Linked DNA regions of Homo sapiens: region 2 is linked to region 1. The links come from fine-mapping of genetic effects on gene expression. A gene starts in region 1. The other region holds a variant in brackets. All regions are shown on one strand. Distances are between the middles of the regions.

The links.
Region 2: its variant is fine-mapped to the expression of CEP63 in whole blood (INTERVAL, PIP 0.98).

The regions. Positions count from the first base shown.
Region 1 is chr3:134,480,027-134,492,263 of GRCh38, forward strand. It overlaps CEP63 (centrosomal protein 63), which reads left to right and starts at 6,031. Exons shown (of 15, transcript NM_001353108.3): 1 at 6,031-6,176. It overlaps ANAPC13 (anaphase promoting complex subunit 13), which reads right to left and starts at 5,959. Exons shown (of 3, transcript NM_015391.4): 1 at 5,926-5,959; 2 at 2,780-2,905. The coding sequence starts at 2,878. RefSeq lists enhancers at 5,614-5,733, 5,764-5,863, 5,944-6,053, 6,145-6,963.
Region 2 is chr3:134,545,632-134,557,868 of GRCh38, forward strand. CEP63 (centrosomal protein 63) reads left to right here. Exons shown (of 15, transcript NM_001353108.3): 7 at 1-188; 8 at 518-657; 9 at 1,704-1,841; 10 at 3,431-3,545; 11 at 4,432-4,629; 12 at 6,295-6,381. Among named protein-coding and RNA genes, the nearest start is that of CEP63, 66 kb to the left of the region's middle. The variant TATATATATATATAC/T (reference allele first, on the strand shown) is at 6,111.

The DNA of each region.
Region 1 (12,237 bases):
CTAAAATTATGCTCAATATATATTAAATGATATTTACTTATCTATATTTGAATCACATACATCTTGTTCTACAAGACAGATTCAAACATACTTGAACAGATTGAGAAGAGCTATCATTTATTGTAACGCAATAATATATTATCTTAAACTTAAAAAGAAAGTTCAGTCCTAATAATTACTTATAGATGACAAAGAATAAATAGGTCCTTGGTTAATGAATTCTTTAATTCAGAAGCAGACAACGTTGCTTAATTTCATCCTATCTGTGGTATGCTTTCTAAAATAATGTGTCTTTCATTTGGTATCTACTGTCCCTTGCAATACATGCCAACACATAAAATGGCATATATGCCTGGAAAACAAAAACAAAAGTATCATAAACCCAGCCACCCATTATGGTGTACTGTAAAATGCCCTTAGTTCTTTGCAGCTACTCTTATCAAAAGGTGAAACTGATTTCCCCAATCTTGGATTTGGACTGGCCCTGTGAGTTGTTTTGGCCAACAGAATGAAGCTGTCATGCCAGTGGGCCAGTTCTTGGCCTAAGCTCCAAGAAGCTCTGCCGTTTCCTCTCAGGTTGCTCTTGGAACCCTGAGATTGAGAAGTCTGGGCTAGCCTGCTGGATACCAGAGACCATGGCATAGTCACCCCATCACCCAGCAGACAGCTTGTTAACTGCCAGACATGTGAGACAGTCCTAGATTACCCAGCCTCCAGAGTCTGTTGGCTGACTGCACAACACAGGCAAGCCTGGCAGGGATCAGCTGAGCTGGTGCAGACTAGAAGTCCCTCCCAGCTGAGCTACAAAATCATGAAATAAACAGTTGCTCTTTTAAGTCACTAAGCTTTGGGGTGACTTGTTATGCAGCAAAACCTAACTGGCATACACATTGCCTTAGAATCGCAAGACAAGCGAAAGGTGTGGATTAGCAGCAGGGCCAAGCCAACTTCGCCTGGAAGTCAGCAGGGAAACCTCCTTCCACCCCTGCCACCCAAATGTTCTCCAATCTGAGCCATAAACTTCTCCAGAAATGGACGTCTCCTTTATTTTCTTGACTTTGTTTAGGCCCTCCTCCCTTGCCTAGACCACAACAGCTTGCCAATTGGTCTCACTTGCCCCTATCTCCATGTCACACCATCTCTAACAATGCTGGCTAAACTGATTTTCCAAAAGCCAAATCTGAGCATAGCAGTCTTGCTTTTAAGACCATTCATTCCTGGATCTCCTGAGGATGAGGTCTAAGTGTGATATCAAATACCACTCTCAATCTGATCCAAGCCCAACTTTTCAGCCTACTTATGTGACAAATGTATTCTTCATCCACAGTGAATGACTCACCATGTCCCAAAGCCTTTCAAAACTCTGGGCCTTTACACATCTGTCCCCTCTGCTGCAATACCCTTGTCTACCTCCACTAAACTTCTGGTCCTTCCTTATGACCCAGCTTAAACATGACATTCTCTCAGAAGCCTTTCTGATGCCCACCAGGCAATCAGCCACTTCGTATATGATGTGGCTGTTTATGCCCCCACCTAGAATATTTATTATCACAATTACTTATCTATAAGTGTTGCCTTTCTAGACCCCTCAGGAGGAGGAACTGTATCTTATGTTCACATAGTCTTATGGCACACAGTAGGCTTCAAAAAATGCTTGTCAAATGAATGAATGAACAGAAGTTCACAAGACAGGATTTGGAACTTCACAGACCTAGGTATATGTTATATGAAGCCCTACTTACCTGCTACCAGACTTTGGGCAAGTTGCCCTTTCTGATCCTATTCTTTTCCTATAAAATGGGAATAACAGCACCTCCCTCACAGGGTTGTTTAAGAATTAGAGATAATGTATATTTCCAACCTCAGTCCATGGCATAAAACTGGTATTCAATAAATGACATCTATAATTCTTATTATGCTCTCTCTTTTGACTATTTTCCTAAGCTTGAACTAAGCTATGACTTATTTGATATGTATATTATTCATTGAACATATTACTATCTCTTATTCGTAAATGAAAATACAGATGAACTATTTTATTTCTTTGCAAACAGCAACAGCAGATATTCTAACTATAAATTATATTTTATTCAATACTAACTACTCTTCTCAGGGCAGCTGGCATGCTTTAAAGAAAAACAGTCCTGTTTTCCCTTTTTTAGGCCTCTATGACATAAATAGGATTTTAAACAAACATTTATATAAGCAAAACTTTTGGATCACTTATTACATGAGGTTTAACAAACTCCCTGCAGCAGAGTTTTCCAAAGATGGGGAAGAAAAGAGTATTCCAGAAGGCCACTGGCCTAAACGCAAAAGAATACCCAGGTATCTTCTGAATATTTTCCAGGGAACCTAAGATAGGTGTATGCTCCAAGAATGTAAGTTTCTAAAAATGCTGAAAGACTGATGAGCCACAGGCAGGGAAGTAAGAAACAGAGCTCATATGCTGCTGCTTCTTGTTCTTCCCCATCTTGCGCATTAAACTCTCATTATTTGGTTTCTCTGGTTTTCGTGTGGTGGACAGAACATGGCTCAGAAAATCGGGGCTCTAGTCCTGGCATGACTCCTAACTGACCTGGCCATGTTAGCTCCCTGAACCACATTTTTCTTCAAATAAAACATACAACTGGATGCTCTCCAGAAGCTTCTAGAGTTAGAGAATTCCACAGCTTTGATTTCTTTGCCACACTAGTTTATCTTCCATTGATATCCCTCCTCCACTAGTTACTGCCAGATCAATACCTTTAACCCATCCTCAGCTCAAATCATAACCTACCAGTGGTATTGCGACATCCTCATAAGGCAGCTTGTCTTCTCGCCAAGCATCATCAATCAAATCCAAGATCCTTCCATCTCTCTGAACCTCACTGTCCATTTTCCTGCAGCTTTGATCTTGTCAAATCTGTAAGCCAAAGAGGTTATTTCTTAAACACGAAGACTGAAGAGATGGTATAATCCACTATTAGGATTCTCCAGGCTTTTTAGTCTGGGGCCACCTTTTGGGAAAAGGTTCATTTTCTCATATGGGCCGGGTGACTACTTTGATCACAGTTCCTCTCTCCAACCCCAACTGATACATATTTTATAGTGTATACTGGACAGGCATAGCCCAGCTGACAGACCAGTGTCATAGAGTGTGACAGGAGAGCAACACGTTAAACGAGGCCCTCAAATATTAATATGTTGCATCTCAATGTAGCTCTTCTCTTCTAACTTGAACATTCACCTTTTCCTGTTTGTGATGCCTTTGATGAGTCCCTGATTCATAATGGCCAGCTAAGTTTCCTTTCTAGCCCCTGGCTCAAACCTCAGCATTCTTAGGCACAGGAGTCACACGAACATACTGTAAAGGAAACGGCTTCCTTCCCTAAAATAGTACCCAGGCTGAGATCTGAATAAAGCACTTCTAGGTGAACACCAGTGGTAGAACCTCATACTGCTAAAGTTTCTCCAGTTTCTGCTTCCCTTTGGGGTAGCTCCTTCCTCGGAGGTTCCTTCCTCTAATTCTTAACGCTACACTCCCTTCAATTTCTGGCCCAAATGGTCACGATGCTTATTTAGCTCCTTGACCATGGCTGATTCCCCATTTTTCTCTGAAACTGCTATAATCTAATCCAAAAGGCTGGCTAGCTTGTAGGATACTTCTGGATTTCCCTGTTTCCAAGGTTGGGCCCTGACTCATCATAGGCATCATCCTATGGGTGCTCCCTGCTACCAAGTGACAATCCAAAAAGCCCGGAAGCCACTGGCATCAAAGGTACTCTCAGTTTCTGAGACTATGGAGACTCACACAATAAGCAATTTTGGGGTGGTGGAGCGGGGTGGAACCCACCATCTGGAGGTGCTTTTTTCAGAGCTCAGCCTGGGTGATATTTTAAGGAAGGAAGCCATTTCCTTTACAAGCTCAACTTCAGACATCGTCTTGCCTTGAGGATTTGTGTCAGGTCTGTAGTTGGTCCCTTCGCATAGTCCAGTTTAGTGTTATCTCAGTATGTTCATGAGCTCCTGTGCCTAAGAACGCTGAGGTTTGGGCCAAGGCAGGTGGAAGTTTTTGTAAAAATGGCTCACAGGGCCGGGCGCGGTGGCTCGCGCCTGTAATCCAGCACTTTGGGAGACCGAGGTGGGCGGATCACGAGGTCAGGAGATCAACACCATCCTGGCTAACAGGGTGAAACCTCGTCTCTACTAAAAATACAAAAAATTAGCCGAGCATGGTGGCAGGCGCCTGTAGTCCCAGCTACTCGGGAGGCTGAGGCAGGAGAATGGCGTGAACCTGGGAGGCGGAGCTTGCAGTGAGCCGAGATAGCGCCACGCGCCACTGCACTCCAGCCTGGGCGACAGAGCAAGATTCCGTCTCGGAAAAAAAAAAACAAAAAAAACCAAAAAGGCTCACAGCTGTCCCCCATAGGATAACTGCAAGATATCCCTAACACCTTGGCAAAAATTATACACAGATTGGTGTGGGAAAGGGTTTACACCCCCATGACAAGGATCTCGGCAAAAGTTAAGCAAAATGCGCCCTGCTACTTCTGTCACCGGTGAGCCAGGTGAGGGCTTAATTAATCCAGTACTCAATAATTAACCGAGTACTACCCAGTGGATAACTCAAAGCAAGACGAAGTTTTGGTTATACTTTTGAAGTCCCTGTCTTACAAGTGCTCCCCACTTTCCTGCTGCTACTCCTTTGTCCTTGCTGCTCTGTCTCCTGGGATACCCTTCTCACTTTCCTCAGCTGATCCAAACCTGACTTTCGGAGGCCCACGTAGATTTTCCACCTTTGTAAAGTTTTCTCAAATCACTCGAGCTTCAGTAGGCCTTCTATCCTTGAACTCTTGCTTCTTGTCCTAACTTAATCTACTAAACAAGCTAGGTCAGCTTTGTGGTCAATTGCTCAGGTATTATTGCCTCCAACTGTTACGTGTACATTTTGTACCCATGATTCCTTAGTAGATCTTTCCACATTTGGTCTCAATCTTTTTCACCTGTCCCTTCTCCAAACACCTCCAACCCTGTCACATTTTCCAGCCTTGACAGTTAAAACCCCCTTTTCCACATCACTAATGCCACTCTTCCTTTCAAGATAAACGCAGGCGTCAGCTCTTGAAGGTCAACATCCCATTTCCGGGATTAGGCGCGAAGGTGCCTTCCCTCATAAGGGGCTGGAAGGATGGGAAGCATCAAGATAATCAATGCCCAGGGCACACTGATTATCTTGTGTATTAAAGCCACCGTCCCAAGTACTCGTCACCCAGTACGACCACTGTTTCCTGAACAAACTTTTCTTACTCACGTGACAGTCCCGATGCCTGCAATGCTCTTTGTTTCTTCCTTTTTATTCCAGTGAACCCACAGTCAGTCTAAAAATCTTAGGTCCCAGGTCGCTTCCTATAGGAGGCCGCCTCCAAACCCCAGGCTGAGTGCGGTCCCGGTACCCACCCCTCCAGGGGTCTCACAGTTCCCTAAGCACAGAGCATGGCACCAACTGGGGAGTCTGTCAAACAGCCCAGATGAATGTCTTTCCAAACACGCGGTGCCTGCGTTTCCAGGGACAGGGACACGTCTTATCAATTTCTATATATTACAGCTTTGTAAACATAATATTTATAAAATCAAAGCGGGAAAGCCTTGTTCCTTGCTAGAAATGAGCCTCGCAGGCCACCACCATCCGCACCGTACGACAGGCCGTCCCTCAGCTGCGGCTTCCTGCCTCAGGCAGGATGTACCAAACGTGGAAGCGGAGACGGGGAGGTCTGGGGGTGCCACGCAAGTCCCTTTCCTCCCGACACGAGTGCAGTAAAGAAAAACGGTTATGAGCGTAAAGTGACAGCCTCGGCCGATGGGAATAGGGGGAAGTCCGACACTGAGCAACGAACGCATTCCCGCGCCTCCAAAACCTAGGCCGGGGGCGCTGGAAACCCTTACCGGCACCCGGCCACCGCGGCAGACGCTTGCTCCTGCCACGCCCCCCCCCCCTCCCCCGCATCACGTGTCTGCACTCGCTTTCCTCGGATTCCCGGATGTGGGTGAGTTCATTTGCTCGCGTGCAGGGGAAGTCTGGAGAAGGCATTGTTTCAATTATTAAAAGTGTGGGGGCAGTGGGCGGAACAAACGCGCCGACTACAGAGGCTGGACGTAAGCTTAGCGGTGGCGCGCGTGCGCAGCGCCGGCCCGAGGTAACGGCGGGAAGGCTCAGGGGCGTGCTTGCGGCAACCCTGTAACCGCCGGTGCGCAAGTTGGAGGGGCAAGGGGCTGCCGTGTCCTGGTCTGGAGGCGGCCCAGGCTGCCTTGGTGATTCTGGCTTCGCGGCCTCATGGCTTGCGGCCGGTTTGCGCAACGGCCTGCGAACCACCAGGCGCGTCCCCGCCGGCTTGGGTCCGCCCCGAAGCCCAGTCCCTCGGCCTGGCCCGCTATGCCCTGCACACTGGCGGAGTCTGGCGTGGCGCAGCCCGGCGTGGGGTTCGGCCCCGCCAGGTGGTCAGCCCTTCCTCGGAGTCCAGGTGGCTGGGGGCGCTTCGGAGAGTGGCCAGGTGGGCGAGCGAGCTGCGCCCAGTACTCACCTTCCCCGGCGGACCCACCTTCCTTTTCAGCGGAGAGACCCCAGTGCGGCCTCCCTGCCAGGGCTGCTGTCTAGCTAGCGCTGTTGGGACTACTTCATTCACGGCACAAGGGGACCCGCTCATTTAGTGTGGCATGTTAAGGTTGGCAGCTTTTAAAATAGTGAGTTGGTTTAAACGGTTATGTTAGTACAAGAGGTACGGAAATGTGGCATAAATCGTGGACTGAAATTGGAGAACCCTGAACTAACGGCTCCATGCACACAAATGAGGGATAGAAAGAAATAAGGACGGTTTCTTAGGAACACTTTAATCATGGAGATACTTGAAGACAGTACATTTAGGCTTATAATGTGGTTTTTCTTACGTCCCTTACGACATCAGGAGAGTAAAGATGAGTATGATGTCAGAGACAGGTCGTCTTTTACAGTTTCAGCACCGTACGCTGATATGCACAGAGTAGTTTTCCCTGAGCCTTATGTCTGGTTAAACTTATTAAAAGAATTTATTATTTTAATAAAGCAGTATTGTAGGGTAGATGCCCTGTATTTATACAGTTCCTCAAGTGCTTGCATTTATTTTTTAGATACGAGGAAATCATAAGGATCGTTGATTAGATTTCTGTTAGCTGTAGCTTAATGATAAAGTGTATATATTTTCTTATTTGGCATGCAGTACCATTTTTAGATTGATTTTTATTTTGAGTTTGCTTTTTGACTGTGGCATTATCAGTGATCAGGGTAGTAAAAAGCTCTGAAACTAAATTAGAGTAGAGATTTATAAACAGGCACACTGCCTTTTAAAATGTATGTAGATGCAAATCTAAAAGTTGTTTGTAAAAATTGTGTATGTTGATTGTACTGATGCCATTTCCTCTCGTTAAAATGGTGGAAGACCTTTGCTTAGTCCTTTCTGTTCTAATTTATGTTGTGCTGGCAGATGGTGACAGCATCAGTAGTCCACTCTGTCATTGCTTCCTGCTTTCAAAAAATGTCAACTTGACTTGAAATTCAGCTAAAGCCAACATTGACAGAAGGTTTCAGGAACTGAATCTCCGATCTTTATGTTATTTTAGTCCGCCTCCCCGCCCCCATCAGGAGCTAGGTTTTTCAGTTTTACAGAGCCACAGTACTGTCATTACACATACACAAATTAATAAAAATTCTCTAATGTCAATATCCAGTCAGATAACGATTTCTTCAACTGTCTCTTAAATGTCTTTTTACAATTAGCTTGTTTGAACCAAAATCCCACAGGGATCTGCCTATTGTGTTTGGGTGATGCACATTTGACATCTTTTAATCTATATTTGTTCCCTCATAGTTATAGCTATGGGATTAGCCCCTATTTTTCCTTACAGTTCTAAATTTAGCAGATTGCATCGCACAGTATCCTTTAACATGTATCTCTGTTGCCTTTGTGTCCTCTAAACCAGGGGCCCCCAAACCCGGGGCCGCAGAGCAGTACCAGTCCGTGGCCTGTTAGGAACCAGGCTACAGAGCAGGAGGTGAGTGACAGGCTAGTGAGCATTACCTACCACCTGAGCTCTGCCTCCTGTCAGATCAGCCGTGAGGTTAGATTCTCCTAGGGGCACGAACCCTATTGTAAACTGCGCATGCAAGGAATCTAGGTTGCACACTTATAAGAATCTGACTAATGCCTGATGATCTGAGGTGGAATAGTTTCATCCTGAAACCATGCCCCTAACCCTGTCCATGTGTATTATTCATATTACTGAAGAAGTGGTTGGCCGGGCGCGGTGACTCACGCCTGTAATCCCAGCACTTTGGGAGGCCGAGGTGGGCATGAGGTCAGGAGTTTGAGACCAGTGTGGCCAACATAGTGAAACCCCGTCTCTACTGAAAATGCAATAAAATTAGCCGAGTGTGGTGGTGTGCGCCTGTAATCCCAGCTACTCGGGAGGCTGAGGCAGGAGAATCACGTGAATCCGGGAGGCGGAGGTTGCAGTGAGCCGAGATCACACCATTGCTCTCCAGACCAGGCAAGAGTGCAAGACTCGGTCTCAAAAAACAAAAAAAAGTGGTTTGGCCATTCCTCCCCCAAAACATTTCATATGAATTTTAACAAAAAGATATTTACAAAATGTGTTATTTCCGCCCTGTCGGTGTTGAGAAATTGTCTTCCATGAAACAGGTCCCTGGTGCCAAAAAGGTTGGGGACCACTGCTCTAAACCAGTAGTTAGATGTAGAATTGCACTGTCCGGTATTGTAGCCACCAGCCAGCAGTGGCTAGTTAATTAAAGTGAAATAAAATTAAAAATTCAGTTCCTAGGCTGGGCGCGGTGGCTCACGCCTGTAATCCCAGCACTTTGGGAGGCTGAGGTGGGTGGATCACGAGGTCAGGAGTTCGAGACCAGCCTGACCAACATGGTGAAACCCCGTCTCTACTAAAAATGAAAAATTAGCCGGGCGTGGTGGCATGCGCCTGTAATCTCAGCTACTAAGGAAGCTGAGGCAGGAGAAGGAGAATCGCTTGAACCCGGGAGGTGGAGGTTGCAGTGAGCCGAGATCACGCCACTGCACTCCAGCCTGGGTGACGGAGCGAGACTGTCTCAAAAAAAAAAAAAAAAAAAAAATTCAGTTCCTAACTTGCATTAGCCACATTTCAAGTGCTCGGTAGCTACAGATTGCCTGGTGGCTGCTTTTTGAACAGTGCAGTTATAAAATATTTTCATAATTGCAGAAAGTTGTATTGAACAGCACTGCTCTAGAAGCCTGATGAGATTTCACCCTTATATTTGTTTTTGTTTTGTTTTTTGGTGGGATAGTTGGGGGGGTTGGACAGATAATTTCATAGGTAATGCAGTATACTTCCTATTTCATTAATTATCAGGGAAGCAGTGTCTGAGTTGTTTTCTTTTTTTATGATGTTAACATTAAACATTATATTGGGTTTAGGTGTAGTTAGCTCCATCCACCCATAGTGAAATTCCCCAAGACTCTTTCACTTAGTGGTGAAGTCCTTTTGTGGGGTTATATTGCCTGTATCCGTTATTGCATTAGAGGTTGCAACGTGGTGATTATCTAATTCTATTATTTCTTCAATATTTATCAACTGAGAGTCTTTTATGAAGAACTTTCCCTTTCCAGCTGTTTGACTACCCTGAAATACAATTTGTACAGGAAAGGCAAGAAAAATGCTTAATTCTTTGCCTCTATTTTCAGACCACAGTAATGAGTTGGTGGCCTAGCAGCCTCCAAAGGTAACCATGAGGGTTTTTGCCTTTTTGTAAACCTATAATCATGAACTTATAGACTTTATATTTAAACTGTTTCAACATATGGCAGTTGTGTTTTTAATACTCAAATTGTTTCATCTTTGGCCAGTGGGAGCTCCTTAAAGTTGGCTCCTATTCCATTTGATATGACCAATAGCTTTGGTAATTTCCTTGCTTTCTGGTAAATAATTTTCCTGGCTCATTTATAGATTTCTGGTCTTCAAGGAGCCGTGGTTCTTTTGAGTCTGAGATAGTATTTGGAGACCACAGTCTTACCTAGGTGGGAGAGGTGTTCTTGCTACTAGGTTAGTCGTTAGTTCTAGGATTTATGGTGGCCAGAGTTAGGAAATATTATATATTAAAAAAAACACAAATATGCAAAATTCGCATTGTTTCCAACATTTAACATTTAAATTTCCAAAATTTAAACTTAATTTTACAGTTTTTTCACACGTTGGATTTATGTTTGTATCTTTTTTGCTGAGTCTTGGTGCCTAGTGCCATTAATAGAATTAGTTTTTTTTCCTCATCCTATGTTATATATAATGGTTTCAAGTTAACAGGCTATTTTATTATCAATATGATTCCTGAATAGTGCTTAGGATTTCTTTGCAACTGTCTTTTATCCTTATTTTATATGTCTCTAGGAAAGTGTATAGTAAAATTATTGTATTTAAAGGCATATGAAGTAATTTATTGTATAGTTAGCCTATCAAGTTGATATCTAGTTGGTAGTTGATTTATTTTATTTTGTTTCCAATTTTTCAGTACTGCTTTTTTCCCCATTTTGATTTGTTTTATTATATGCAAAACCTTAGCATAATTCCCATAAAACAAGTACCCATAAAACAATTTAGCTTTCATCTCTGTTTCTTCCACTCTGCTTATTTTCCTTCCTTACTGATACTGTTTTTACTAGTTTTGAGTCTATCCTTCCATTAAAAAAACACATACCTAAAAGCAAATCTACATGGACAAACATACCTTTCTTTCTTAGGTAAAATGTGCTATTATGTATACTGTTTTCCATCTTGGGTTTTTCACCTAGTGATATATGTCCTGTAGATCCCCTCCTTAGGAGTATGTAGAGATTGTTATTCCTTTTTACAGTTTCGTAGTACTCCATTGGTGGATGAATATTTAATTCGTCCCCTCTTGATAGACACTTGTGTTATTTTCTGCTATTACAAATAGTCATGCAGTGAATATCCCTGTGGATATGTTGTTTTGCATTTTTGCCAATGAGCCTGTGGGATAGATTCTTAAAAGTAGCGTTGTTGGATAAAAGGGTAAATGCATATATCAGTTGTTAGGTATTACCAAAGTCTCCTCTATAGCAGTTGTGTTCATTTTGCATTCCTACCTATTATGTATATGAGTGCCTGTTGTCCCACAGCCTTGTCATCAGAGTGTATTATCAAACATTTAATTTTTGGTTAATCTGGTACAGAAGAAAGGGTAACTTACTGTAGTTTTAATTTGTATTTCTCTTATGAGCAAGGTTGAACATCTTTTCATATTTTTACTGTCATTTGTATTTTTCTGTGCATTGCTTGTTTATACCTCTCGCCCATGTTTCTATAGATTTTTTGCCTAATCTTTTATAAGCTCCTTATATATTTGGGTAATTAACCGTTTGTGGTAAAACTTTCAGGTACTGTTGTCATTTGTCAGTTAACTTTGCTTATGGCACTTTTTCATATAAAAGTTTGTTTTTATGTACTCCTATTTCTCAGACTTTCTCATTGTTCTTCCTGGATTTTGAACTATAGTTTGGACAATTTTTTAAAAACTTTAATATTTTGAAAAGTTTCTCTAATACCTTATTTACTGGTATCAGTTTAATTAGGAGCCTTTCTGGAAAATGCTTAGTAATACTGATTGTTCATCGGAACAGCCATAGTTTACTGGCCATGGTATATCTGACACAATCATAGAGCTTTGTAATGAAAACGACACCAAGGCAGGTACAGGGACAGAGAGCATTGTTATCCTCCTTTAGACTTGAAGGTTAGGCATATCCCTTCTCTTAGTATGTACACATTTATTCATAATTCTGTCTGGAGTTTTTATTTTCTTCCTGTGTCCCATTTTGTGAATAATTTGGTCTTGGGCATATACTATGATATTTTTCCTGATCTGTAAAATGATAAAGTTAAATTAGAGGCCTGAAGTGCTTTCTAGCTCATAAAGTCTATGTTAATGAATTTCAAAGATTTGCCTATTATAAGACATTCTATTTGTATTCTTTTTTTTTTTTTTTTTTTTTGAGACGGAGTTTTGCTCTGTCGCCCAGGCTGGAGTGCAGTGGCGCGATCTTGACTCACTGCAAGCTCCGCCTCCCGGGTTCACGCCATTCTCCTGCCTCAGCCTCCCGTGTAGCTGGGACTACAGGCGCGCGCCACCATGCCCGGCTAATTTTTGTATTTTTAGTAGAGACG
Region 2 (12,237 bases), 66 kb after region 1:
CTAGCCAATCAGAAATTCAACACTTAAGCAGTAAACTGGAGCGGGCTAATGACACTATCTGTGCCAATGAGTTGGAAATAGAGCGCCTCACCATGAGGGTCAATGACTTGGTTGGAACCAGTATGACTGTCCTACAGGAGCAGCAGCAAAAAGAAGAAAAATTGAGGGAATCTGAAAAACTATTAGAGGTATGTTTTAAAATCACTATAATTGGGGGAAGTGTGTGTATGAGTATTTTAAGAGAGTGTTATTAAGCTAGAACTAGGTTCTACAATCCATACTTTCTTCCCTACTTTATAAATGATGGATCAGATATTGATAGTTTTACTAATATTGTGACTTTATTACAATATTTACAATATTGTAATATTGTTACGTAACTTATAGTCTGACTTCCTGGCTTCTCGTGAAATAGAAAAATTGTAATAATAGCTGGCTTAGAAATTTCTGAGTATTTTGCAGGTTCTGCAGGAATTAAAAAGAAGGAAAATTATAATCATATTTGACTTTTTTGCAGGCTCTGCAGGAAGAAAAGAGAGAATTGAAGGCAGCTCTTCAGTCTCAAGAAAATCTCATACATGAGGCCAGAATACAAAAGGAGAAGTTACAAGAAAAAGTAAAGGCAACTAACACTCAACATGCTGTAGAAGCTATAAGGTAAATTTAATCTTAAATATTATTCATCTTAGCCACTTAATGACTAGGTATTAAGCACTAGGCTTATTTTTATTTTTATTTTTATTTTATTTTCAGATAGTCTCCTGTTGCCCAGACTGGAGTGCAGTGGTGCAATCTCAGCTCACTGCAACCTCAACCTCCGAGGTTCAAGCCATTCTCCAGGCTCAGCCTCCCAAGTAGCTGGGACTACAGGTGCATGCTACCACACCTGGCTAGTTTTTTGTATTTTTAGAGACGGGCATTCATCATGTTGGCTAGGCCGGTCTTAAATTCCTAACCTCAGGTGATCTGCCCACCTCAGCCTCCCAAAGTGCTGGGATTACAGGTGTGAGCTGCCACGCCCATCCAAGCACTAGTTTTCATATTGCATATTCATAATTTTATGTTTGATCATATTGTGGATTTTCTTAATTGGCTTTAACTTCTGAGTTAGGTTTTTAAAGTGTTATAAAATTTTGTGTGGTTAATTTTCTTCTGCCACCAGTTAGGGTCCCTAACAGAGACTCTCATGTTTAGAAAGTTAGAAACCAAGGTCAGTTTGCATGCTTGGTGAAAATCCAAATGTGCAGGGAATTGTCATCCATGTCTCCTGGAGGCCTCACTTTGTTGGTGGAATAAGTTGTGATTAGTAGCTGCTTATCATTAATAGCAGCCAGCCATTGGGCTAGCCCTCTTGCTTGATTTAAGTCTGATGCACACTTTTATTTTTGCCAGAATTCTCCTGTAACTTTTCAGTTTTTTTGGTACAGGGTTTCAAGTGTCACTGAAGTGATTTTGCCATTTTGTCTTTTTCCCTTGAAAAAAGGCCAAATCCCAGTTAAGAAGGGAGTAAATTGCTACTTTTTGAAGTATCAGCATCTCTTGACTCTTTCTTTCCTCTCCCAATATTCTTTTTATAAAGCAGGAGACAAACTTGAAGAGTTCCAAAGAGGTTACCAAAAATGATGGGGAAACACAGACTAGATGAGCATTATTTTTGTTTGCAGAGATAAAGGCGTTAACAATCATCCTATGTCTTTCCATAGGCCACGGGAAGAATCTCTGGCAGAAAAGAAGTACACCTCTCAAGGGCAGGGGGACTTAGACAGTGTGCTCTCCCAGTTGAATTTTACCCATACTAGTGAGGACCTTCTGCAGGCAGAGGTGACTTGTCTTGAAGGCAGGTACATAATTATACACACATTTCAAAAATTTCAAGTTGTTAAAATGAATTTTTGATCATCATATTGTAAATGAATGTAATAGTCATAGTAAAAAAAATAAGATTTTTTTCTAGTATCCACAAATGGCCTAAGTTCTTATTTCTTTTTTTTTTTTTTTGAGACGGAGTCCGCTCTGTCACCCAGACTGGAGTGCAATGGCACAATCTCAGCTCACTGCAACCTCCGCCTCCCGGTTCAATTGATTCTTCTGCCCCAGCCTCCTGAGTAGCTGAGATTACAGGCGTGCACCACCATGCCTGGCTAATTTTTATATTTTTGTAGAGACGGTGTTTCACCATGTTGGCCAGGCTGGTCTTGAACTCCTGACCTCAGGTGATCCACCTGCCTTGGCCTCCCAAAGTGCTGGGATTACAGGCATGAGTCACCGCACCCTGCCCTAAGTTCTTATTTCATTGAGAAGACAGAAGCAATTAAAGGAGAACCTCTTAATCTTTCTGTCATCAAATCTACCAGTCTGCCCATACCTGTGCCTTTCTGCACTTCTAAGACCAACCACTCCACTTGTGTCCTTTTTCTGTAGTTATATCCTTTCTCTTCTGCATCATCAAGTTCTTTCTGTCTGCTGAATCTATCCACTGGTATAAAATACGCTGTAACATCACCCATCTGGGGGAAAAACCATCCCTTAATCCTATGTCTCCGTCAAGTTATTTCCACATTTCTGTACTTCTCTTTAAGACCAAATTCTTCAAAAGAGTTGTCTATACTGACTCTACTTCTTTACCTTTCACCTGTTTAGCAGCCCTTCACTTAGGTTTTCCTCCTTGCCACCTCAGAAGCAGGGTAGGAAGGGGTAACAGTTGACACATGGTGATCCTTTTTGTTCTGCTGTGGTGTTGTTACTTCCTTGGGTGTTAATTGAATCCTGACTAATGCTATACCATACCCACCTAAACACTTGTCATTGTCGTACTTATAGAATTTTTTTTGGTTTTTCATAACCTCTCAACTTTTTGATTGGGAAGAGTGTGATATCTTGTTTTAAACACATGAATCATGATCATTTGTACACTGACATTTTCTGTATGTAAAAGATAAAATTGCTTTTAACATGAACTGTTAACCTTTAGGCAAACAACAAGAGAAATATCATTTTACACTTTTTAGGTTATCTTTAAGTAATACATTTTTTGTTTTTACATTTATTTCTGGTTTTGGAAACCAGTAAGTATTTTCTTACTTTTATCTACATGTTAAATACACAAACATGCATACACACACATATTTTCTGCTTTATTCCTTTTGGAATACTTGGAGTACTTGAGATAGTCTTTGTTATTATTGAAGTATATGTGTACTCTTCCGTTTGACTAAAATTAAGTTTATTATTTTTGACGTTGGGACAACAGTTTACATTTTTATCACAGTTTTTTTATTGATTGGCTTTTTAGTAATATTTTAAATGACTGAGGTGATGTTTAAGATATTGGCTGGATATTTTTTGGATATCAAGAATGTAAATTAGATAGTCCAATTTATAGGTTTCAGGATTTTGGTTTTAAGTATGGGATCTTATTTTTGTCATACAGTTTGGAATCTGTGAGTGCAACGTGTAAACAGCTGAGCCAAGAACTAATGGAAAAATATGAAGAACTGAAGAGGATGGAAGCACATAACAATGAATACAAAGCAGAGATTAAGAAGGTAAAAATCTGCATACCTAGGATTGCAAAATTGTATGTGTTTATGGACAAAGCTGTGGATTGGGAGATTATAGGGGTTATTTTTAATGAGAAAAAAATGTAGTTCAAGGGACCACTTGATATTTAGGAGTGGAAGAGTTTGTGGAATGTGCATAGGGAAAGTGCCTTCTTTCTTTGGCATCGCCCCTGATGCCCAATAAATATTTTTAAGATAATTGAAGGCTGTCCCCTTTGAACTCAAAAACTTTATTTTAAACATGTTTTGATGAAAAGTTTTCTAAAAGACATACACTCTGTTGCTTGCAAAAAAATATGAACTGTCACTTAATATTTTCTTATTGCCTAAAGATAGTATTTATGTATTGTCTCCTGTGCTATGATGTAGTTAGTATCCTTGTCAGCTATTGAGGTATGCAGAGCTGTTTGTGTCTATATGAATGGGCCCTAACTGTCCTATTTGTTTGATTTGTATTTTTTGTTACTTCTTTAAGATTACTTCTAGTTCCTTACTTCCTCTTGTTCTATTTGTTATCCTGTGGACTAAGATACCATATGAGCAAAACTTTTAGATTCACAACTAAAAAAAAGAATGAAGGTCACAAGTACTCTCCTCTAAATTGTGTGCATGGACCTTGATTCTGGTCCTCAGCACTTGAATAACCCATCTCTCCCTGTTTTGAGGTATAATAAATGATTGTAGGTATAACCACCTGACCTTCAGTACAGATATGCAACTTGGTAAATTGCTAATTTTTCTGCAGATTTAATTTAAGAGAAATTTAATGTCTTGAGATAAGGTGAACTTTTATTTTATTAGCTAGTAACATATTATTCTATCTAAATGCTTTCTCTTAACTTTTGGTGCTTTCTTTTCTGCTTCTTTATAGTTGAAAGAACAGATTTTACAGGGTGAACAAAGTTACAGTTCTGCACTAGAAGGAATGAAGATGGAAATCTCCCATCTAACTCAGGAGTTACATCAGCGAGATATCACTATTGCTTCCACCAAAGGTTCTTCCTCAGACATGGAAAAGCGACTCAGAGCAGAGATGCAAAAGGCAGAAGACAAAGCAGTAGAGCATAAGGTGAAGCCTGAACAAAACCTTTTTTAAATTTGAAATTTGTTTTAAAGATGGAGTTGATTAAAGACATAATTTTCATAATATTTAATTCAGTGAATTTTTATTAGATACCTGCTTTGAGCTGAGAGTATGCTGGCTAGCAAAGAGTTTAGTGAGCATGGTGGGGAGGTGAGAGTAGACACAGACAAGTAAAGTGACTGTATCAGTGGTGTATGGTGAGAGTCACTAGAGATCACAAGCAGCCTGAATCTAGACCACTCGCTGCAAAGGCCTTCCAGAAGGTGTGATAGCAAAGCTAAGTTAGGAGCAAGCTGGGTGATGGGGAGGAAAAGTGTTTCAGGCACAGGAAAATACAGAGGTCTCTAAGAGAGAGTAGAAACACGCTTGCTGTGGTTGAAACTAGAGTACAAGTGGGATGAGTGGAAGGTATGAGACTGGAAAGCAGGGACTGGCTGCTGAAGGGCTACGTTAGCCACGTAAAGGAGTTATACTGTGACCTTGAGGTCAGTAGGGAATGGCTGCAAGCAGGAGTAAAATTCAGTGGTCCTTAAATGGAGAATAAGCAGGGAGACAGAGCACCCAGATGCTGTTACAGTGGTAAGATGGTGGCCTGAGCAGTGGGCAAGGGAGGCAGAGGGAAATGGATGAATTCTGGAGATACTGGGCTGGTAAAAATGACTGGGCATTGTATTTGATTGGCAGGGAAGGTGAGGTAGGCAGAGTTAAGGAATGGTGCTCCACAGGATTTAAACTTAGGCAACTGATGGAAAGTGATGCTTTTTAATGAAATAGAGAAAAGACAGGGAGCAAGTTTGGTGAAGGATGATGAATTTGTGTGAAAAGTACACAGACTGGGGAAACTGGTGGAGAGGACATTGGTTTGACACATTTGTTTGGAATAAAGGCTGGAATTTTGTATGGGTAATAGTCAATTCCACAGAAGGCCTGGAGTTGAAGATTAAAATCAGGATTAGGCATTTAGCTGTGGCTGTCCTTTCTTCATGGTGACATTTGAAACCCCCTGAGAGACTTAATGATTATAGTGAGAAAGCATAGCGTAAGAAGAGAAGTGACTCAAACCAAACTTAGGATACTTCTCATTTAGTGTAAAAAAGATGTTGGAATGAAGCTTAAAAAAAGGAGCAGTGAGGAGGGAAATCAGATAGTTTTTGCCAAGCCAAGGAAAGAAGGAATATTTTCAAATGGGAATGGTCAAGCACAAAAGCTGAGGGGAATGAGAACTGAATATAAGTTGTTATTTTGTGAATAAAGTACAATTCCATGTGACGTTGCAGGTAGAAGCCAAATTGGAGGAGGCCAGCACAGGAGAATGGGTAGGGATTTAAGGGGTTCAGTGGATTGAAACTTTGCTGCTTTGTCACCTGATTTATCCTATTAGAATGATATCTTCATCCCATTCATGTTCATTCACCTTAATAACATCTTAAAAATCTTTTTAGAAAGTCCATATATATATATATATA[TATATATATATATAC/T]ACACACACACGTACATATATATATGTATATATATATATAAATATGTATATGTATATATATATAAATGAAGAATATGACTTAGCCTAATGAAAATTCCATGTGGAAAAATTTTGTAAGATGCATGTGATTTACATGTTATATTTATTTTTTTCTGTTTTCCCCTTTTCAGGAGATTTTGGATCAGCTGGAGTCACTCAAATTAGAAAATCGTCATCTTTCTGAAATGGTGATGAAATTGGAATTGGGTTTACATGAGGTACATAAATAGAAACTTAAGTTTTTCTACTATCCAAGCCTTCAAAAAAATTACTTTGTAAATATTTACATTATAAAGAGAGAATTAAGATCAACTTAGATCCTTTTGCAGAAATTTTCTCAAAGAAAATGAAGGTAAAACAATACTGGAAGTGAGCAAAATATGACTCTCCACTCCAGCAGCAGGAAGGGTTTTTGTTTGTTTTTTTGAGACGGGGTTTCACTCTTGTTACCCAGGCTGGAGTGCAATGGCGTGATCTTGGCTCACCGCAGCCTCCACCTCCCGGGTTCAAATGATGCTCCTGCCTCAGCCTCCTGAGTAACTGGGATCACAGGCATGCGCCACCACACCTGGCTGATGTTGTATTTTCAGTAGAGGCAGGGTTTCTCCATGTTGGTCAGGCTGGTCTCGAACTCCCAATCTCAGGTGATCTGCCCGCCTCAGCCTCCCAAAGTGCTGGGATTACAGGCATGAGCCACCGTGCTCGGCCAGGAAGGTATTTTTTTATATTATGTATGTGATAAAATTTACCTACAGTCTGTGTTCTTAGTTGGAAGAATGTATATGAAGGACTTAGCATATAGTACATAGTACCTGACACTTAGTAAGTATGCAATACATCCTAGATGGTGGTATTATTATTATTATTATTATTGTTAATGATTATTATGTTTGTTATCTTTTTAGAAAGTATATTGTCTTTAAAATAATTTAATTTTAATTTTATTTCTACAAGATATTCACATAATAAAATATTTTAGAATCTTTTATATCCAAGGACTTTTAGTAGGTGCTATAATGAACACAGGCTGAATAAGATAGCATTCTTGCCTTTAAGAGAGATTTTGGATCAGCTGCAATTACTCAAATTACTCTAGCCTTTAAGAGACTAGAGTAATCTAGTAGCAAGGATAAGAAATGCATACAAGCTTCTGTGAAACCAGAGAGAACATGATTAGCCAACAGTGAATTACAGTATAGATGCTCTTTTAACTGTTTTGTTACAAAATTCCTATAATTTGCAAAATGACTCATCTATTCTGACCCATCTTTTCTTGGTGTAGGTCAGATGTCTGAAAATTGTATAAATGCTTTTTTCCTGCATTTCCAGAGAGTATTCCTCCAAAAAGATATATGGTTCCAACATGCTCCCTGTTTGCTCTGAAAAATTCTAATTTCACAATCCAGGATTGTGGATACTGGGGTGGAAGAACATGCAAAAGACTATTATAGAGTACCTTATTTCAACTGGAAAAATGGGGGACTATTTTTGTAATCTTTCAGAAGGGTAAGATTCTCCAAACATCATGACGCCATAGAGGATTTTACAACATAAAAATGTGAAGTTTCTGGATGGTAAAAGGCCCTATTAAAAAAGACTAATAGGGAGAAAACAGTTTATAATCAGACAAAAGGTTAATGTAAATTATTAATATATAAAAATTCCCTACAAAGATAATAAGGAAAAGATAATCTAGTAGAAAAATAGGCAAAGAATGTAGATAGATACCTCACAGAATTAATATAAATATCTAGTAAACAAAGAAAACTGTTCAACCTCTCTAATAAAGCAAAATAGACATTCTTTTACTAATTGGTTTGATAATAACCTTTAAAAACTAATATATAGCCAGTGTTAGAAAGATGTAAGGAAACAGACTTATTGCACTGTCAATGAGAAAGTGAATTGATACGGCCTTTCTAGAGGACAGCTTAGCAATATCCATCAAATGCGTAAATACGTATAGCCTCTAAATTCCTGGGTCATGTGTGTTTCTGATTTTGATAGTCCTTGCTGAATTGTTTTCAGAATGGTCTTATCTTTTTACATTCCCATGGAAACCATTCTCTAGGAGCAAGTGTGCATAAAATGGTCATTGAAGTATTGTTCGCAATATCCAAAATTTTGAAATAAACTATATTTATTTCAATGGTTAATTTTTGATTTTATGAATATTACACTGTCATTGAAGGTGGCAGATGAAAACACTCATCTGATCTTGCTCTATCCTCAAATCCCTCTAAAACTGTCATGAAAGGATTTATTTTTGTTCTATTTTATTTTTATTTTTTTCCTTTTATTATTATACTTTAAGTTTTAGGGTACATGTGCACATTGTGCAGGTTAGTTACCTATGTATACATGTGCCATGCTGGTGCACTGCACCCACTAACTCGTTATCTAGCATTAGGTATATCTCCCAATGCTATCCCTCCCCCCTTCCCCCACCCCACAACAGTCCCCAGAGTGTGATGTTCCCCTTCCTGTGTCCATGTGATCTCATTGTTCAATTCCCACCTATGAGTGAGAATATGCAGTGTTTGGTTTTTTGTTCTTGTGATAGTTTACTGAGAATGATGATTTCCAATTTCATCCATGTCCCTACAAAGGACATGAACTCATCATTTTTTATGGCTGCATAGTATTCCATGGTGTATATGTGCCACATTTTCTTAACCCAGTCTATCATTGTTGGACATTTGGGTTGCTTCCAAGTCTTTGCTATTGTGAATAGTGCCGCAATAAACATACGTGTGCATGTGTCTTTATAGCAGCATGATTTATAGTCCTTTGGGTATATACCCAGTAATGGGATGGCTGGGTCAAATGGTATTTCTAGTTCTAGATCCCTGAGGAATCGCCACACTGACTTCCACAATGGTTGAACTACTTTATAGTCCCACCAACAGTGTAAAAGTGTTCCTATTTCTCCACATCCTCTCCAGCACCTGTTGTTTCCTGACTTTTTAATGACTGCCATTCTAACTGGTGTGAGATGGTATCTCATTGTGGTTTTGATTTGCACTTCTCTGATGGCCAGTGATGATGAGCATTTTTTCATGTGTTTTTTGGCTGCATAAATGTCTTCTTTTGAGAAGTGTCTGTTCATGTCCTTTGCCCACTTTTTGATGGGGTTGTTTGTTTTTTTCTTGTAAATTTGTTTGAGTTCATTGTAGATTCTGGATATTAGCCCTTTGTCAGATGAGTAGGTTGCCAAAGACAAAAACCACATGATTATCTCAATAGATGCAGAAAAGGCCTTTGACAAAATTCAACAACCCTTCATGCTAAAAACTCTCAATAAATTAGGTATTGATGGGACGTATTTCAAAATAATAAGAGCTATCTATGACAAACCCACAGCCAATATCATACTGAATGGGCAAAAACTGGAAGCATTCCCTTTGAAAACTGGCACAAGACAGGGATGCCCTCTCTCATCACTCCTATTCAACATACTGTTGGAAGTTCTGGCCAGGGCAATTAGGCAGGAGAAGGAAATAAAGGGTATTCAGTTAGGAAAAGAGGAAGTCAAATTGTTCCTCTTTGCAGACGACATGATTGTATATCTAGAAAACCCCATTGTCTCAGCCCAAAATCTCCTTAAGCTGATAAGCAACTTCAGCAAAGTCTCAGGATACAAAATCAATGTACAAAAATCACAAGCATTCTTATACACCAGCAACAGACAAACAGAGAGCCAAATCATGAGTGAACTCCCATTCACAATTGCTTCAAAGAGAATAAAATACCTAGGAATCCAACTTACAAGGGATGTGAAGGACCTCTTCAAGGAGAACTACAAACCACTGCTCAAGGAAATAAAACAGGATACAAACAAATGGAAGAACATCCCATGCTCATGGGTAGGAAGAATCAATATCGTGAAAATGGCTATACTGCCCAAGGTAATTTACAGATTCAATGCCATCCCCATCAAGCTACCAATGCCTTTCTTCACAGAATTGGAAAAAACTACTTTAAAGTTCATATGGAACCAAAAAAGAGCCCGCATCGCCAAGTCAATCCTAAGCAAAAAGAACAAAGCTGGAGGCATCACCCTACTTGACTTCAAACTATACTACAAGGCTACAGTAACCAAAACAGCATGGTACTGGTACCAAAAAAGAGATATAGATCAATGGAACAGAACAGAGCCCTCAGAAATAATGCCGCATATCTACAACTATCTGATCTTTGACAAACCTGAGAAAAACAAGCAATGGGGAAAGGATTCCCTATTTAATAAATGGTGCTGGGAAAACTGGCTAGCCATATGTAGAAAGCTGAAACTGGATCCCTTCCTTACACCTTATACAAAAATCAATTCAAGATGGATTAAAGACTTAAACGTTAGACCTAAAACCATAAAAACCCTAGAAGAAAACCTAGGCAATACCATTCAGGACATAGGCATGGGCAAGGACTTCATGTCTAAAACACCAAAAGCAATGGCAACAAAAGCCAAAATTGACAAATGGGATCTCATTAAACTAAAGAGCTTCTGTACAGCAAAAGAAACTACCATCAGAGTGAACAGGCAACCTACAAAATGGGAGAAAATTTTCGAAAGGATTTATTTTTAAAGCGCAAACCCACGAGGTTGGGAATAATAGGAGAGGAGACAATAGCTAAACATTTTGTAAGGGGGAAAGTGGGAAGGAGGGAAGGAAGGAAGGAAGGGAGGGAGGGAACTTGATATCCCCTAATAAAGTCAATACTAAGCTAGTAGTGGAGAACTCTAAGAACTAAACTGATTTACACCACAGAATTCTGTAAAGGCTTAGGATTCAGCAGTACTTGGTTGAGAGACTCTTATCTTATGCAGTGATTATCTGTTCATATTTAAGAATTGAGAACTCTCAGGGGAACTTAAGCCAGACCATGACCAGAGATGCTGTTCAGCTTAATTTCTCCTGAAACTTCCAGCTATCAATAATAGTGGTAATACTGTTCTTTCTTTAGACAGCTAGATGTGTGCTCGCTACTCAGTTTTCATATTACCTTTCATATTCATTTATCTGTAGTAATTGTTTATAAAATAATAACTTAGAGAAATTTTTAAAACATACCTGAATGAAGGTAAGCATTATCATTTTTTAATAAGTATGTTTAATGACATCAGACATCAAACTGGTGAAAACCTTGTCAGCAGTTTAAGCTTTCTCTAGTTTTGAAATTACATACAGTGTGAATATGTTGTACATATTATGAAGAATAATTATTAGAAAATGCCCTTTTGTATTTTACCATGTAGGAAGCTGAAGTTACTTGTACAAATGAATGTTTGGGTTAAATGTCTATTTTAATAAATTACCTAATTATCTTAATAATGAAAGCAACAGCTCTGATAAATTACTGACCATGTTTTAAAAACCGATAATAGTTTCATTTTAACTCGTATGTCCTGCAGATGTTCTTCTCTGATATTTTATCTGGCATTGACAACTTGTTGAAAGATTTTGTAGCTCATAGTCACTACTTGTACACAGATAGTTCACAGGTATATTTTAAAGTTTATGTTTTTGTTAGGAAAATTATGTTTGTCAGACCACTCTTGACCAGCTTACTTTCATAATTTGTTTTTTTTTTTTTTTTTTTTTTTTTTTTACAGAAAAGACCAAGCTAACCATGGTATTAAACTCCAAAGATTACCATAACTTTGCATAATACTAATTAAAATATTTTGTCATTAGAAAAAAAATCACCCAGACTACCATTTTTTCAAGTAGTGTCTTACCAGGAAACACCTAGAATTGAAGAGCAATAAAATTTATGATACCAGATCAGAATAGTAATTCCCACTATATACTTGAATCCTGCTTTATCATGTCCAAATTTATATATGAGTAGATACCAAAGTTGTAGAAAAGTGTTTAAGATTAGAGATTATTTATTTAAAAGTTGTCCCTGCCAGCCAGAAGATTTTTCTCACAACTTTTTGTTCAAATTTCTTTCCTTGAACTAGGTCTCCGTTTTCTTTCATTAGTATTCTGGGGCTATTCAACCTTCACCTTCTTGCAGAAGAAACATGGCTGCTATTTTCCTTCTTCTTCCCTGTTTCTGATTCCCTC